Regions from separate parts of the Homo sapiens genome. Here region 1 is linked to region 2. The links come from fine-mapping of genetic effects on gene expression. A gene starts in region 2. The other region holds a variant in brackets. All regions are shown on one strand. Distances are between the middles of the regions.

Region 1 (8,335 bases), 100 kb after region 2:
CCCCAGGGCAACCCACCCAACACCCAAAACACACACATAGCAATTCCTATCCTTCTGTGTTTTTTTACTAATATACTTTTTTAGCATTATAATTTTATAGAAAAATTAGCCTAAAGTACAGAGAGTTCCCATATACCCTTTATCCCCTCCCCACCCCTAATTTCTCCTATTATTAACATCTCACATTACTGTGGTGTATTTGTTACAATTGATGAGCCAATATTAATATATTATTCTTAATTAAGGTCCATAGTTTGTTTTAGGGTTCACTCTTCGTATTATGTTTTCCGTGGGTTTTAACAACTGTGTAATGACAGATATCCATCATTATAGTATATTTGAATCATTCACAGATATTTCTGAGTTACTCATTATCTTTTAATCATCCAAACACATCTTTAGGTGGTGGTTGGTTTTTTTTAACTGACTTTTAAGAAGGCCCTTGGGCCAGGCACCGTGGCTCATGCCTATAATCCCAGCACTTTGGGAGACTGAAGCGGGCGGATCACTTGAGGTCAGGGGTTTAAGACCAGCCTGGCCAACATGGTGAAACCTCGTCTCTACTAAAAATACAAAAAAAATTAGTTGGGCCTCGTGGCGGGGACCTGTAATTCCAGCTACTTGGGAGGCTGAGGCAGAAGAATTATTTGAATCCAGGAGGCAGAGGTTGCAGTGAGCTGAGATCGCGCCACTGCACTCCATCCTGGGCAACAGAGTGAGACTGTCTCCCCCCCTACAAAAAAAAAAAGAGAAAAAGAAGGCTCTCAATATTGCCCAACAACCATACTTCATGTTTCCCTAGTTTATTCACTCTCCTCCCTTACTGGATGAGTATTTTCTGCCTTTTTCTTTCTTCTTATGCCTCTAATACTTTCCCTTCTCACCCTCAGTTGGTCTCGCTTCCTATCTCACTAAGAGAAAATAAAAGCAGTCAGAAGAGAACTCCCAGTCTCCCATTGCCTCACATATCCTCCCCCCTGCATCTGTGCCTGATGTTCTGCTTCTTCCTGCTGTGAGTGAACCATCCACACTCTTAGGGAGACCAAGCCTTCCATTTGTGCGCTGCATTCCATTTTCTTTGGCCTACTGAAGGACATCCATCTCTGCTAGATGTTTCGTATCAGCATATAAACATGCCACAACTGCATTTCTCTCTTCCCAGTCTCTCTCTCTCTCTCTCTTTTGTTTTGGGTTTTTTTGTTTTGTTGTTTTTTTGTTTTTTTTGTTTTTGGTTTTGAGAATGAGTCTCACTGAGTCACTCAGGCTGGAATGCAGTGGCGTGACCTCGGCTCACTGCAACCTCCTCCTCCCGGGTTCAAGTGATTCTCCCACCTCAACCTCTCAAGTAGCTGGGATTACAGGTGCATGCCACCACACCCAGCTTATTTTTATATTTTTAATAGAGACAGGGTTTCACAATGTTGGCCGGGCTGGTCTCGAACTCCTAAATTCAAGTGATCTGCCCCACCTTGGCCTCCCAAAGTGCGGGGATTACAGGCATGAGCCACTGTGCCCAGCCTATCTTGAACCCACTCCCTCAAAACAGCTCTTGCCAAAGGTACCAGTGACCTTCATGTTGCTGAGTCCGCTAACCTCTCAGCTTTTGGCACAGCTGTTGACTCCTTTCTGTTTGAACATAACTTCTAGGACACCACATTCTCCACTTCACTGGTGCCTCCTTTTCAGTTTCTTGGGCTGGCTCTTCCCCATCCTCAAACCCTTCATGTTGGGGTGCCCTCAAGTCTCAGTCCTTAGTACTCCTCTCTTCTCCACACTCCATTGGTAATCTCATGCAGTCTCTCAGCTTTAGAGACCATCCAGAAGTTGACAACTTCTTAATTAAATGGTTGAAATTTAGTGCCTGGGTTCAAATTCTGGTTCCACAATTTAAAGCTGTGCAACTTTGAGCAAGGCACTTTACCTTTCTGTGCCTCAGTTTCCTCATGGTAGATACTTTAGTATTTGCTGAAGGAATGAATAAAACAAAAATAAAACTAATCAAGAAAAATTATAGAGTTCTTAAGTTTCTTTGCAGAATCTCTGATATATCTCGAGGGAAGAATTATTCTGTTTTATAAATGAAGAGGAAAAATGTGTAGTTTGTATTACTTATTCTCTTCCAACTGTTAGCACATCACACAACTGACTGTCCTTATCCCAGCACAATCTGGCTTCTACCCTCACAGCTCTACTGAAATGTCTTCATTGAAGCCACTAGTGACGGAAGTGCCAAATTCAGTGTGCATTCTTCAGCACTTACTGTACTAGACCTCCCTGTCTCATTCTCATTGAAACATTTTCTTTTGGCTTTCATAAACCTTTCAGACCAATCTTCCCTCCTCCTTCTACTTGCTCCTTAAATGTCAATGTTTTCCAGGGTTCCATTCCTACATTTTGCTCATTTCTTCATCCAACCCTCATTCGCTCTTGACTAAAATTTGACCCTCTCAGAATCAAGAGGAGTTTGAGATCCTCTTTGCTACCCACACTTGTTTTCAAACCATTACTTCCCCTCATCTTAAAAAGCCCTCTGGGCTGGGCACAGTGGCTCAACACTTTGGGAGGCCAAAGTGGCAGATCACTTGAGGCCAGGAGTTTGAGACAAGCCTGGGTGACAGAGCAAGATTCTGTCTCAAAAAAAAACAAAAACAAAAAACCTCTGTTTCTTTGAGTTTATACCATCTAACTTTGTCACCCTCCTCTTCTTCTCCTCCTTGTTGCTGTCATCTGTCAACCTCTCCCTCAGTGTTGAGTATTTCAGCAGCTGGTCCGCTATCTACCCAACTCCATTCAGCATCCTCAGCAACTCGAGCATCTACACAGTGGCTCCTCAGTTTATGTGCTTCCTCATCACCTATGAACTTTTCTTATCCCCCAGCCCCAGCCACACACTGCCATGAACATCTCGAGCCTTATCTTCAGACAGTACACAGCCTCCAAATGCATACATTTAAACATCCTGTTTTCTGATGACAGCATTTTTCCTTTCAGCAGCTTACTTGTTCAAAGGCCCCTCAGAAACAATTGTTATTTCATTAAGACCTTCTGAGTTCATTGAATCCTTTACTTTCTCATGGTCCAATAGCCCTCATCTATCTGAACTTTTGTAGCCCACCTAACCTAGGAAAACCCCAGCCCTGGATGAATCCAACCATCTGCCATCTTTACTTTGAACTGGCTTTCACATAGTTAAGCATTGCTAGAGAAAATCACCCCATCTAGCAGATAAGTTTGGTGATTGTGATTTTTGTAGTTTCATCTCCTGTCTCCATTCTTATCCTCCTCAAAGCCCTTCTTCCACTCAACTGTCAGAATGATTCAAAATGCAAATCTCATCATGTTATTCCAATGCTATTTTCAGTGCTATCCCATTTCTTAAAATACTCTTGCCTTTCAGACTTAAAAATGAATATGAAGCACCTAGGAATCTTGTTAAAATGCAAGTTCTGCTTCAGAAGGTCAGAAGTAGAACCTGAGATTCTGCATTTCCAACAAACTTCTTTCACCATCACAAAGGACAAACACATCCTCTTGAGAGTAGTAGCTTTTGGTCTTTATTTTGAAATGACCTACATTTTAACTCAACCCAGACCTTATTTTTCTCATTTTTATGAAATAAGCTCAAGGTTTGCCAATCTAGACCAGAAATCTCAAACTCCTAAGTAAAACAATTATAAGCACTTAACACCTATCTTATCCTGAAGTCCTGGAATGTCAGAGTTGGAAGAGATCTTAGAGCTCATTTTGTTTTATCTCCTCATTGTATGGATAAAGTGTAGTGCAAAAGAGTGAGTTCTAGGCCAGAGGTAGGCCAATAATTTAATTTTCCCAACTCACGGGCCAAGGTTCTTTCCACTGCACCATAATACTGATCCCCAATTTTAAGGTTCCTTGTCTGTCCTTCTAAACCATCAATTCACTCAACAACTGCTTAAGTGTATATAGTATGTGCACATCTGTGCCATTTGTTGGGTATGCAAAGTCTAAAAGACAGGGTGCCTGCCCTGAGATGCTCATGACCTAATTCAAATGCATCCTTCCTGTCCCTCTCCCCACTTCTCCTGGATCTTCTCATCTGTATCTTTTTCCACGTTTGTAAATATAAATTCAATAGAAATAAACAGTTTTATATATGGCAAATCATGATGAGCTATGAAAGAAAGGTGAGTAGGGGGATTAAATTTTAAAATAGATACAAAAGGATAAATGCACTATTTCTTGAGAGCAATGGCTTTCAATCTTTATTTTGAAGTGACCTATATTTTGATTCAATCCAGTTCCCCCAACTTGCTCACAATTGTGTAAGTGAAAAAAAACTGTGTCTAAACAAGTGCACTATTACTTACCCAGAGTATATGGTTCTGTTAACTAAGTGTTCTGTTTCTTTTTAAAGCCTGGTTAATGGCCGGGCGCTGTGGCTCACGCCTATAATCCCAGCACTTTGGGAGGCCAAGGCAGGCGGATCCCTGAGTTCGGGAGTTCAAGACCAGCCTGACCAACACGGAGAAACCCCGTCTCTACTAAAAATACAGAATTAGTCAGGCGTGGTGGTGGGCGCCTGTAATCCCAGCTACTCAGGAGGCTGAGGCAGGAGAATCGCTTGAACCCGGGAGGCGGAGGTTGCGGTGAGCTGAGATCACGCCATTGCACTACAGCCTGGGCAATAAGAGTGAAACTCTGTCAAAAAAAAAAAAAAAAAAAAAGAAGCCTGGTTACAACCCACAATCTGATTTCATGAACCCTAATGGTT[C/T]TCACTGCCAGTTTTGGGGGCTTAGAGTCACAATCACTTGAGTGTTGGGCTGAACTGACCCTGTTGCTGATTCAGACTCAACTCATGTCTGCCAGGGAAACCTCCTTTCTGTTACATTTTTTATTTTCTGTAAATTGCATTTAAACCACAGTTCTTCCAAGAAGGATTTCCGTCTTTACCGTACCATTTTATTCAGTATATTGTTAGCGTTTATATACTATATTCCTGATTGCCATGTGTGGGTACTTCATTTTGATTTCATGTCTGTTTACTCTGTCCCCAGTTGGACTGTTAATTCCACAAGGGCAAAGATCCTATCTTCTGTTTCATTGAGACGCTCCCATTCCTTTCAATTTTGCACCCTGTGGACATTTGAATCAATCATCTATTGACATGTGATTCTAGCAGGGTACAGGTGCTTGGCTCTGCCATGGCATTTCTCTCACCCTTGTTTCTCATTTGCCATCCACCTCATTTTCTATAGACCCAAAGCTTATGAAAGAAGAACAAATGTCACAGGCCCAGCTCTTCACCAGAAGCTTTGATGATGGCCTGGGCTTTGAATACGTGATGTTCTACAATGACATTGAGAAAAGGATGGTTTGCTTATTTCAAGGAGGCCCTTACCTGGAAGGACCACCTGGGTAAGAATGATAGCCTGAAAGTGTGGATCTAAAAGATTTTTATCTTACACTGCCCCCATGTGTCCTGTACATGGACTACAATAAAGATTTTCAAATGGTCACATAGATGTATATTTATTGACATGGAAAGATGTTTATAATACATTATTAAAGGACATCTTATCTATATTATTAATATTGATTAAATATTTTTATATATGAGCATTATAATATTATAGGGCATAGGGCAATAGAGTATAATTTGAGAGCATATCATTAATGTGTTAACAGTGGCTTGTCACTGACTAGGTGGGTAGTATTATGGGTCCTAAATTTTTTTCTTTTTTTTCATATTTGCATTACCTACATTTCTAAACAATGAATATGTATAGTTTGTTTTGTTTTGTGAGACAAGGCCTTGCTCCTTTGCCCAGGCTGAAGTGCAGTGGCATAATCATAGCTCACTGCAGCCTCGAACTCCTGGGCTCAAGCAATCCTCTCACCTCAGTCTCCCGAGTAGCCAGAACTACAGGCACATGACACCACACTTGACTAATAATAAAAACATAATATAAATTTTCTAAATTACATTTTAGCTTTTTGCTTGCTTGCGATCTGGTTACTATTAAGTTCTGGTTTTATTACAAATACTTAAGACTATATTATTATGCTGTGAACAAAACAAAGTTGGGGACATAGATAGTATTTGGCATTCAGTACACTGAACATGGGCTAAGTGGACCTTTCATAAGTAAATAGTGTGAAGATGCTTGGATAATTTTTCTCTTTCAAGAGGCTCTCTATCTTCAGAACTTCTGAAAACATTTCTCCTCCACTCCTGTTGTAACTAGATTCATTCATGGAGGTGCCATTGCAACCATGATTGATGCTACTGTTGGTATGTGTGCAATGATGGCTGGGGGAATCGTCATGACTGCCAATCTCAACATCAATTATAAAAGGTAAATTCACAGTAATTCTCTATTTATCCTTAGGTGTTGTTAAGTCAGGTTCCCAGTTGCAGATCTTGACACCATAATTTGTGTTCAAGTGATTATTAAGGAAGTGCTCCCAGAGGAGACTAGCAAGGGAGTGGGAGAAGCAGGACGGGGAAGATGAAGAAGTGTCAACCAAGGCTGAACTCTCAAAAGTCCAGCAAAGCATAGCTTTAGCCAGATCATACAAGAGAGCTCTAGAATGAAATTTATGCCTCAGAATTGTCTCCATCTCAGATGAGGGAGCTAGAGTCTTTATACTCTCGCATGTATTGGTCATAGGATCAGGGCCATCCCAGGGACCATAAATTTCCAAGTACTTCTAAGGGTCTCTGTGTTTGAGCAAAGCAGACTCTAGAGAAAATAACCAAAACAAGTGAAGAAAGGATCCAAGGGGCTCTGGGTGGAGCACCAACATCTACTACATAACAAAATTAATTTTTTAAAAATTTAGCTGGGCCCAGCAGTGCACGTCTGTAGTCCTAGCTTCTTGAGAGGATTGCTTGAGCCCAGGAGTTCAAGGCTACAGTGAGCTAGGATCATGCCACTGCACTCCAGGGTGGGCAACAAGACCCCAACTGTAAAAAAAACAACAACAACAAAAACACACACACACACACAAAACACCGAGTCTTTTCAGTCCACAGGCACAGATGTCTTTCCATTTATTTGTGTCTTTAATTTTTTTCATCAATGTTTTGTAGTTTTCAGTGTATAAGACTTTTGCTCTTTGGTTAAGTTTATTCCTATGTATTTTATTCTTTTTGATTTTTTTATTTTTAATTTTTTTATTATTATTATTATTATTTTGAGACAAAGTCTCACTTTATTGCTCAGGCTGGAGTGTGGTGGCATGATCTCAGCTCATTGCAACATCCACTTCCCAGGTTCAAGCTATTCTCATGCCTCAGCCTGCCAAGTAGCTGGTATTACAGGCATGCACCACCACAGCTGGCTAATTTTTTGTATTTTCAGTAGAGACAGTGTTTCACTTTGTTGGCCAGGCTGATCTCAAACTCCTGGCCTCAAGTGATCCGCCTGCCTTGGCCTGCCAAAGTGCTGGGATTACAGATGTGAGTCACTGCACCTGGCCTTAATTGTTTTCTTAATTTCCTTTTTGGATTAGTCATTGTTTGTGTATAGAAATGCAACTGCTTTTTCTGTGTTGATTTTACATCTTGCAGCTTTGCTGAATTTGTTTATTCATTCTAACAGGTTTTTGTGGAATCTTTAGGATTTTCTATATACAAAGTCATGTCATTTGTAAACAGATCTTTGTACTTCTTCCTTTCCAATTTGAATACCTTTGATTTCTTTTTCTTGCCTAATTGCTCTGGCTAGGACTTCTAGTACCATGTAGAATAGAAGTGGCAAAAGTGGGCATCCTTGTCTTGTTTCTGATCTTAAATGAAAAGGTTTTAGTCTTTTACCATTCAGCATGATGTTAGTTGTAGGGTTTTCATAAATAGCCTTTATTATGTTGAGAGAGTTTCTTTCTATTCCTAGTTGTGCCTTAGATTTTTAACCTTTAAACCCAGATTGTCATTGTACCTCCTTTTAACAATTTTAATAGCAATTACATTGATTCTAGAGATTAATTTGGGGAAAGTTGACATATTTACAGATGGTCAATATTTCATATTAGTTATAACTATAAATTAGATTCTAGAAATCTGGGTTTTCTTAACATGTTAAAGAATATATTAAAAATTAAATTTTTTATATTTTTCCATGTCCCATGTTTTTAAAAATATTTTTCCATGTTCAAATAAAGTTGAATAATGAAGTATAACATCGTTCCTAAAAAAATAAATGTAAACGGTTACTTTGAAAACAAGCTGAAACAAAGTATTTAGATTGCTGTTTATCTCAAAAAGTGTTTGTGTCTTAAGCACATACTCAAATGCAAAATGGGAAACAGAACCTGCCAAACTCTATGCTTAGTGTTTGTCCCACCCAATAAACCA
Region 2 (8,335 bases):
AGAAATATAATCCCTAGCTGAGCGGCCAAAACTCTACACAATGAAAAGAGGAACACACATTTCTGGTAGATAGCCCACCTTCTGTGCCACAGCCACAAACCCAAAAAAGTTGAGGGTAATAGGATTTTGTGGCTGTGCCACATGGAGAAGTGGTAAAATTCCCAATACTGCCTCACTAGTGGATCAATCTCTCCAGCTCCCAACATTTTGTACATTGGAACCTACTTCAGCCCTGGTAGAAGATTTGAACATTGCTTTCTCATCATTTCAGAGACCACATGGATGGGGCCTCTGCTCTCATTCCTCCAGTGGCCATTCAGTTGGCTACCCTCCTGCTAAGACACTATCCTTGCTGGGCAGCTCAGGCTTAGGCACTGGTCCCTGATGCCATCAGTTTTCTCTAGGGAAGCAGAGCTGGCTTCACTGAATGCATGTAGTTGACAAGGTATAACTACTTCCTGGAGAAAGAACTGCCTGGGACCCCTTTTCCTAGAGAGACTATAAGCATGGCTGATACTTGAAGCTTTATGGACCTGCTAGTACACAGAGTCATTAAGAAACCACATGAGGCCAGGAAGAGCAAGGTGTGCTGACCATTTTCATCACTGTATTCCCAGTACTCAGCACAATGTTTTAGAAACCCTGCAGCATCCTCCTGGAGATGCACCCACTAGGGCCTTAGAGTTCTGCTGGCAGATTGGAGAAGAGAGAAAAAAGAAGACACAGTACAGTACAGTTGAACAGTTACTTGTCAAATAAAAAGGTGAAAAGAATGATTTAAATGAATAAACATATGATCTTGATAAATATTTAGTAACATAGGAAAGAGTAAGAACAAAAGGAAAAAGTATGGGACAAAAATAGAAACAGTCATGTGTCGCTTAATGATGAGGATACGTTCTGAGAAATGTGCCCTTACACGATTTCATCCTGCAATCATCATAGAATGTACTTGTACAAACCTAGATGGCATAGTCTACTACACAGCTAGGCTGTATGGTACAGTCGAGGACTCTGAGGCTACAACCCTGAATAGCATACTGTAGGCAATTGTACTACAATGGTAAGTATTTGTGTACCTAAACATGGAAAAAGTGTAGTAAAAATATGGTATAAAAGATTTAAAATGCTATACAAATAGGACACTTACCATGAATGGAACTTGCAGGACTGGAAGTTGCTCTGGGTGAGTCAGTGAGTAGTGAGTGAATGTGAGGGCCTAGGACATTACTGTACATTACTGTAGACTTTAGAAACACTGTACACTTAAGGCTACACTATGTTTAAAACAGTTTTTCTTTTATCAATGATAAATTAACCTAGCCAGATGCAGTGGCTAATGCCTATAATCCCAACACTTTGGGAGGCCAAGATGGGTGAATCACATGAGGCCAAGAGTTCGAGACCAGCCCGGTCAACATGGTGAAACCTCATCTCTACTAAAAAAAACAAAAATTAGCCAGGCGCTGTGGGACATGCCTGTAATCCCAGGTACTCGAGTGGCTGAGGGACAAGAAGCACTTGAACCCGGGAGGCGGAGGTTGCAGTGAACAGAGATCACACTGCTATGCTCTAGCCTGGGCGACAGAGGGAGCCCCTGTCTCAAAAAACCAAAATAATAATAACAAATTAACCTTAGATTACTGTAAATTTACGTTATAAACTTGGAAATTCCTTTTTCTTTCCTTTTTCTTTTTTTTTTTTTTTTTGAAATGGAGTCTCACTCTGTCTCCAGGCTGGAGTGCACTGCCACAATCTCGGCTCACTGCAACCTCCGCCTCCCGGGTTCAAGCGATTCTCCTGCCTCAGCCTCCCAAGCAGCTGGGAGTACAGGTGCGTGCCACCACGCCCGGCTAGTTCTTTCTCTGTAAGATGGGGTTTCACCACGTTGGCCAGGATGGTCTTGACCTGTTGACCTCGTGATCCGCCCGCCTCGGCCTCCCAAAGTGCTGGGATTACAGGTGTGAGCTACCACGCCCAGCCTAACTTGTAAATTCTTTAAATGTTTGACTCTTTTGTAATAACACTTAGCTTAAAGCACACATTATACAACTGTAGAAAATATTTTCTTTCTTTATATCCTTCTTATGTAAGTTTTTTCTATTTTTAAAATTTTTATTTTTTTTTAAGTTTTTTGTTAAAAACTAAGACACACACACACAAAAAAAAAAAAAAAAACTAAGACACAAACACACGTATTAGCCTAGACCTGCACAGGGTCAGGATCATCAATATAACTGTCTTTCACTTCCACATCTGGTCCCACTGAAAGGTCTCCAGGGCAAAAACACACATCTCCTGTGATAACAATGACTTCTTCTGGAATACCCCCTGAAAGACCTGCCTGAGGCTGTTTTTTAAACTTTTTTTTAAGTTTTACTGTTTTTTTAATAAGTAGAAGGAATACACTCTAAAATAATGATGAAAAGTATAGTGTAGTAAATACATAATGCAGTAACAGTCATTTATTACCATTATCAAGTATTGCATACTACACATAATTGGTATGTGCTATATTTTTATACAACTGGCAGCACAGTAGTTTGTTTACACCAGCATCACCACAAACACATGAGTAAAGTATTGCGCTAGACAGCTACAAGGTCACTAGGCAACTGGAATTTTTTTAGCTCTATTATAATCTTATGGAACCACTGCTGAATACATGATCCATCGTTGGCTCAAACACTGTTATGCAGTGAATGACTGTACTTAATTTTATAATCAGTATGATCACAATTATGCAAATATTTGTTACATATGCATAAAAAGACTAGAAATATGAAAATGTTTATCTTTGGCTCATGTATTTATAAATCATTTTTTATACATTGATATATTTTCCAAGCCTTCTAAGAATGGAATCTTTGTACAGATTAAAAAGTTACAATAAGTGTTATTGTTGTTTTTAAATTTCTACCCAATGTTGCTTCCTGCAGAAATTATTCTGTGACCACTCCAAGAGGACTTGGAAGCCCCTCCTCAGTGTTCTCCTAGTATCCAATAGTATCCTCTACCATTCACTAAGCACACTGGATTTTAATTGTTTGCTTATCTAACGCCCAATACTTGGAACTCTTCAGAGAAAGAGACTGATTCTCTAATCCCTGAATTCCCAGGCCTACCACATACACTAAAGCACTCCTAAGGTCTGTGGACCAGATGAAGAAATCAGATGAGTAGGGGTACGCAAACCCAGGCATTCCCATTCTAAACCCAGTCGCATTGCAATCCCTGCAACAAAAGGGATCCGAGATTTCCTCCACTGGTGACTGTGACCTGGGGACTGGGAAGTACTGTATACAGGAAGATCTTGAAGAGCTGTCCCCTTGAATAGTCAGCACCAGGGTTGCACGGAAAGTAATAGCTGAAATCCAAGTTGGGTTTTCCTGGCAACAGCCAATATTAGTCAGAGGTGGCACTTGGAGGATTCCCCAGGTCTGCTCATTCCTTTAGGATCATTCATTCCTCCCAAGGCCTCCCTTGGGAACAAAGGAAAACCCCAGAGTTTGGGATTGGGCTCTTTTCCACCAACAGCTGCTAGTAGTTTGTATTTAACCCTGAGTCACAATTAAAATAAAAGAGGGCGGGCGGGGGAGGGGCGAGGAGTTGGTAAGCATCCCCTAGGAAACACTTAGGTTTTCTCTAAATTTATTCCAGAAAATTCTTCTAAAGGACTTTTCAAGGACCACAGCATACTGCCTTGGAAACTTAGTTTTTAACCTTTTTCTTTTCTTTTTTTCTTTTTTCTTTTTTTTTTTTTTTTTTGAGACAGAGTCTCACTCTGTCACCCAGGCTGGAGTGCAGTGGTGCGATCTCGGCTCACTGCAACCTCTGTCTCCCAGGTTCAAGCGATTCTCATGCCTCAGTCTCCTGGGATTACAGGCGCGCATCACCACTCCCGGCTAATTTTTGTATCAGTAGAGACAAGGTTTCACCATGTTGGCTAAGCTGGTGTTGAACTCCTGACCTGAGGTGATCCGCCCGCCTCGGCCTCCCAAAGTGTTGGGATTACAGGCGTGAGCCACCGCGCCCGGCCAGTTTTTAACACTATTAGCCACACTGAAACTGAACTATTGATCAAGTGACGCCACACAAAGGGGTAAATCCCCTGTTCAACAAAGGGTTTGTGACGCCCCTGGGTGCTGACAAGCCAAACCGCACCCTCCCTGCGGCACCTCGCGGGCCGGTGGGGCGGGAAGCCCGGCTTCTGGGGAGGTGCCGCCCCTCCACTGGCGCAGGCCGCCGAGACCCCCAGACGGACCTCCTAGGGCTAATCTGATAGTGCCTCTGAGGTCGATAGGACTCCACGTGCCACTCCCTGCAGGGTCATCCAGCAAGTAATTCCTAGACCCGTAGGTGGCCGCAGAGCCGGTTACCTCTGGTTCTGCGCCAGCGTGCCCCACCCGCAGGACGGCCGGGTTCTTTGATTTGTACACTTTCTAAAACCAAACCCGAGAGGAAGGGCAGGCTCAGGGTGGGGATGCCCTGAAATATTCGAGAGCAGGACCGTTTCTACTGAAGAGAAGTTTACAAGAACGCTCTGTCTGGGGCGGGCGAGGCCTCTGCGAGGCGGGTCCGGGAGCGAGGGCAGGGCGTGGGCCGCGCGCCCGGGGTCGGGGGAGTCGGGGGCAGGAAGAGGGGGAGGAGACAGGGCTGGGGGAGCGCCCTGCCGAGCGCCCGCCAGGCTCCTCCCGCTCCCGCGCCGCCTCCCTCTACCCACCCGCCGCACGTACTAAGGAAGGCGCACAGCCCGCCGCGCTCGCCTCTCCGCCCCGCGTCCAGCTCGCCCAGCTCGCCCAGCGTCCGCCGCGCCTCGGCCAAGGTGAGCTCCGCCCGGCCCACGCGCCCCTCCTGGGTAGTCCCCAGGCCCGGACCTGCTGCCCGGGGAAAACCCTGCACCCGGCTTCGCGGGGCGTCCGGAGCACCGCGGGGCTGGGCGGGGAGCGGCTGGTGGGGAATCCGCTGCTCAGTGCTCCGGGCCACACCCAAACGAGGCCAGCAGCGCCCCTCCCCGGCCCGGGCGCGGCCGCCCCCAGACCCACGCGGACCAGAGGAGGGGGCACTTGTTCTTTAGGAGGGGACCGTGGTATTGGTGCGCCTGAACCTCTTCCCTCCTCCCTTTATGTTTGCGTTGCTTTACTCCCACCTTTCCTACTTTCCCACTCGTCTCTCGGGTTACCGAATCCCTCCTACACGCCCCTGCCCTGGCTGGCGTGTTTCTTGGTGGGTTCCGCTCGCAGGCCGGGTCTGCATGTTCGTAGCCTGCTCCCGGCTGTACCGCCCAAGTAGGCGCGGGTAGGACGAGTAGGCAGCTGGGGCGTCCCTTCCGTAACCCTTAGTCCGTCGGCCAAACAGGCGTTTCTGGTCGGGGCTTCCTGTTGTCTGCTCGACGGAAAGGGTCTTCCTGCTGAGGGAGGGAGGTCCACTTGTTTTCTTTCTACAGCAGTTTGGCTGGGGTTTGTGGGAGAGGGCCCTGTGTGACGTGGTTTCTCTACTGAAAGGGTTCCCTTGCTGTCTTAATAAGTGGAACCAGAAAGAGATGGAGGAAGAGCAGGCTTGATGAAGGATCTTCCAATCATAGATTAATTTGGCCCGGTGCAGTGAAACAGACAGACGTGCCTTTGGTACTTGGTTCACCACCTGTGCTTTGGCCGAAGGAATGGCGCTGCCCCTAGCCGTGGACACTGCTGCCTGTCCAGCCTCAGTCCAGCTCTGCCTAAGTGAAACCAGGAGCTCTGCCTTGTTGGCTGGGGTGGAATGCAGAGCGCTCCAAGCCAGGCCAGCACAGGGGAGCCCTAAGCCAGATTCTGGGATGCATTAAGCCCACCCCGTTTTCTGCCCCCACCCAGTTCCGTCTCTGCGGGAGCTTCTGCAGGGCGTGGTTAGCACAAAGGGCTCCAGGATTCTCCCAGTGGTCTGAGGCCTGTGACTCAGCTGTGAGACCATGTGGGTGTGGCCGGTTGCAGATACTCTCGGTGGATGGTTTGGACAGAACACTCCCTGAAGGAAAAGGAGAACTGTGCCATCTCAGAGGGCATTTTCCAAGAGGAAGTGAGTCACACCTGGTCTGGCTGCCAGTCTGCAGGAGAGGTTTCTCGACTGAACTGCCGGTGAGGGCAGTAATTAGATCTGCAGGGCCTTGGCGAGACCGCTTTTCGTTATCGGCCAGTATGCGCCTGGCAGCCTGCCTCAGCCTTACTTGGGAGGTAGCTTTTCCCGCTAAGAGGTTTGCAGTTGTTGCGGATATTTTTCCCCAGAAGCTTGAGTTTCAGTCTCCAGGAATGGAGTTTTATGTTGTGCGTTTTAGGTGAGGCCAGGCTCATGGAAACACCCAGTCGGTGATCTTTGCCTCCAACATGTTTCAGCAAATTGCAAAAGATAATGCCAGGGGTTGGAGTGGGAATGAGTTCATATAACTTATTGGAAGTTTCTTCATCGGCCCTGCCCCCACAGATTCCTATCCAGTTTCTCTTTAATCATCCCTTCCAAATGGTGTATTTGTTCCTTCACAGCCAGAGGATAGTTTCTTCACTGTGGCCCTTGATCCACCATTTGGAGTTTCTTATCTAGGTTCTTACAATTTTTTTGGTCTACTGGGCATGAAGCAATTTTTGGGTCTTACCCTGCTTTCTGGGTGATGCTCTTCCTAGCTTTTCTCCGACACATCATATAGGCCCCTTTCCTCCCGTGTGCTGGCCAGCCTCCTAAGCAGCCACTCCAGTGAGGTCAGGGTGGAGCTGAGACTGTGTGCCTCCCTGCTTTCTACTGACAGTTCAAAAAATGTGACTTTTGTAGAGCACAACCCACTTGGTATACCCTTGGACACAGTCCAGTCTTTTAAAGCGTAAAGTTGAGAGAAACAATGGAATTCTTTCAGGATTATAATGTATAAATTAGCACTCAAAGTGCTGAGAAAGCTGGACTAAAATTTTAACATCTTAAGTTTCTCATTTTTCTGGGGACTCAACAAATTTAGGAATCCACATCAAAAGCAAAAAGAAAGAATGTACTTCTTTTAAACAATTTTCAGCACTTTCTATCCCTTTACTAAATAAATACCACCCATCCTACCAAAGGATTTAACTAAAAGCAGTTTTGACAGTAGCTATGTTGGCTGATTAGGCTGATGCCTAAGCATTCTTTAAGGAAAAATTGATGTAGTTGGTTAGATTGAAGGAGGTTTCTTCCAAGTTCTTTCTTCCTATTGAATTGCATCTGAAACGTTCCTTTGCTGCCCAGTTCTTTAGTGGGCAAGTTTTAGTTGGTGAGAGGTGAGAGAGACAGCCTGGATCCAGATCCATTGCTTCAACTCATTTTTTCTGAATTCCCTTCAGAGATCAAATTTAAGAATGCCTTCTGGGTTCAATTTTAAAAACTCCAAAATTTCTAAAGCAAAAGGAAGGAAACCTCAAACATATTTTAAATAACAGATGTTTGTTTTTACTGACACCCTGCCGTTTATTTTCTGGGTGGGCTGTAAGAAAACTAGGGTATGGACAAGACACAGAGGAGCAAAGCAAGTCCGACTCACTCTGCAGAAGTGTCCTCTTTGAAACTGCAGCCGGGATCTGGGCATAGGTCCAAAGCAAACATTTGAGATTTTTCAGGAGCAGACACTTTTCTGAGGAGGACTCCTGCTTGTCTGCTACTCGCAGGACAACCAAAATACATCATTATCAATTTCTTAACAATTCATCGAGCAGGCTCTATGAGGGCTGGGGCACTGGCTATTGGGACCCTGCTCAAAAAACCTGCAACCTAGTGAGGAAAGAAACAGAAACACAAATAACTAGAATTCAGGCCAAATGCTTTAATAGTATTCCATTAGCTGGTGAACTCCTCAAAGGCAAGCACCATGGAGAGCTTTGTGTGTGTGTGCATGTGTGTATGTGTGTGTGAACACCCTCATGCCTAACACCATGTCTGGGACATTCAAAGTAGGTGCTCAGGGAGGGAGAACCAAAAATGGAAAATTGAATTCCTCCTAAGGTAACTAAATTTGTGGAGTCCAGAATTGTTTTCCATAGAGAAAACTATGCAGAGAAAGATGTCTCCGCCTCCCTTCTTAAGACCTGTTGCTCAGACAAACATGTAGAGGGCATGTATAGGCATCAGATTAGAATACTTCAATAAAAGGTGAGTGGACAGCAAGGCTGTTATTATCCTGTGGAGCTCAGCAGTGAGATAGCAGCACTAGAAAAGCAAAAAGTAGAAGATGGGATGAATGAAACACGAGAAAATAGCAAGTGTTAGAAGAGAAGGAGCACAGTCATGTCATTCTGACTAGACCTGTTTAGCAGGACACATATTTTTCCTTTTGCGTATGGAATGT

The links. PIP is the estimated chance that this variant, and not a neighbour inherited with it, causes the effect.
Region 1: its variant is fine-mapped to the expression of S100A10 in whole blood (TOPMed, PIP above 0.99).

Annotation. Positions count from the first base shown.
Region 1 is chr1:151,886,273-151,894,607 of GRCh38, reverse strand. It overlaps THEM4 (thioesterase superfamily member 4), which reads left to right. Exons shown (of 6, transcript NM_053055.5): 3 at 5,235-5,394; 4 at 6,225-6,335. Among named protein-coding and RNA genes, the nearest start is that of THEM4, 19 kb to the left of the region's middle. The variant C/T (reference allele first, on the strand shown) is at 4,751.
Region 2 is chr1:151,990,242-151,998,576 of GRCh38, reverse strand. S100A10 (S100 calcium binding protein A10) reads left to right here and starts at 4,718. Exons shown (of 3, transcript NM_002966.3): 1 at 4,718-4,825. RefSeq lists silencers at 4,291-4,420, 4,551-4,600, 4,611-4,910 and an enhancer at 5,479-6,678.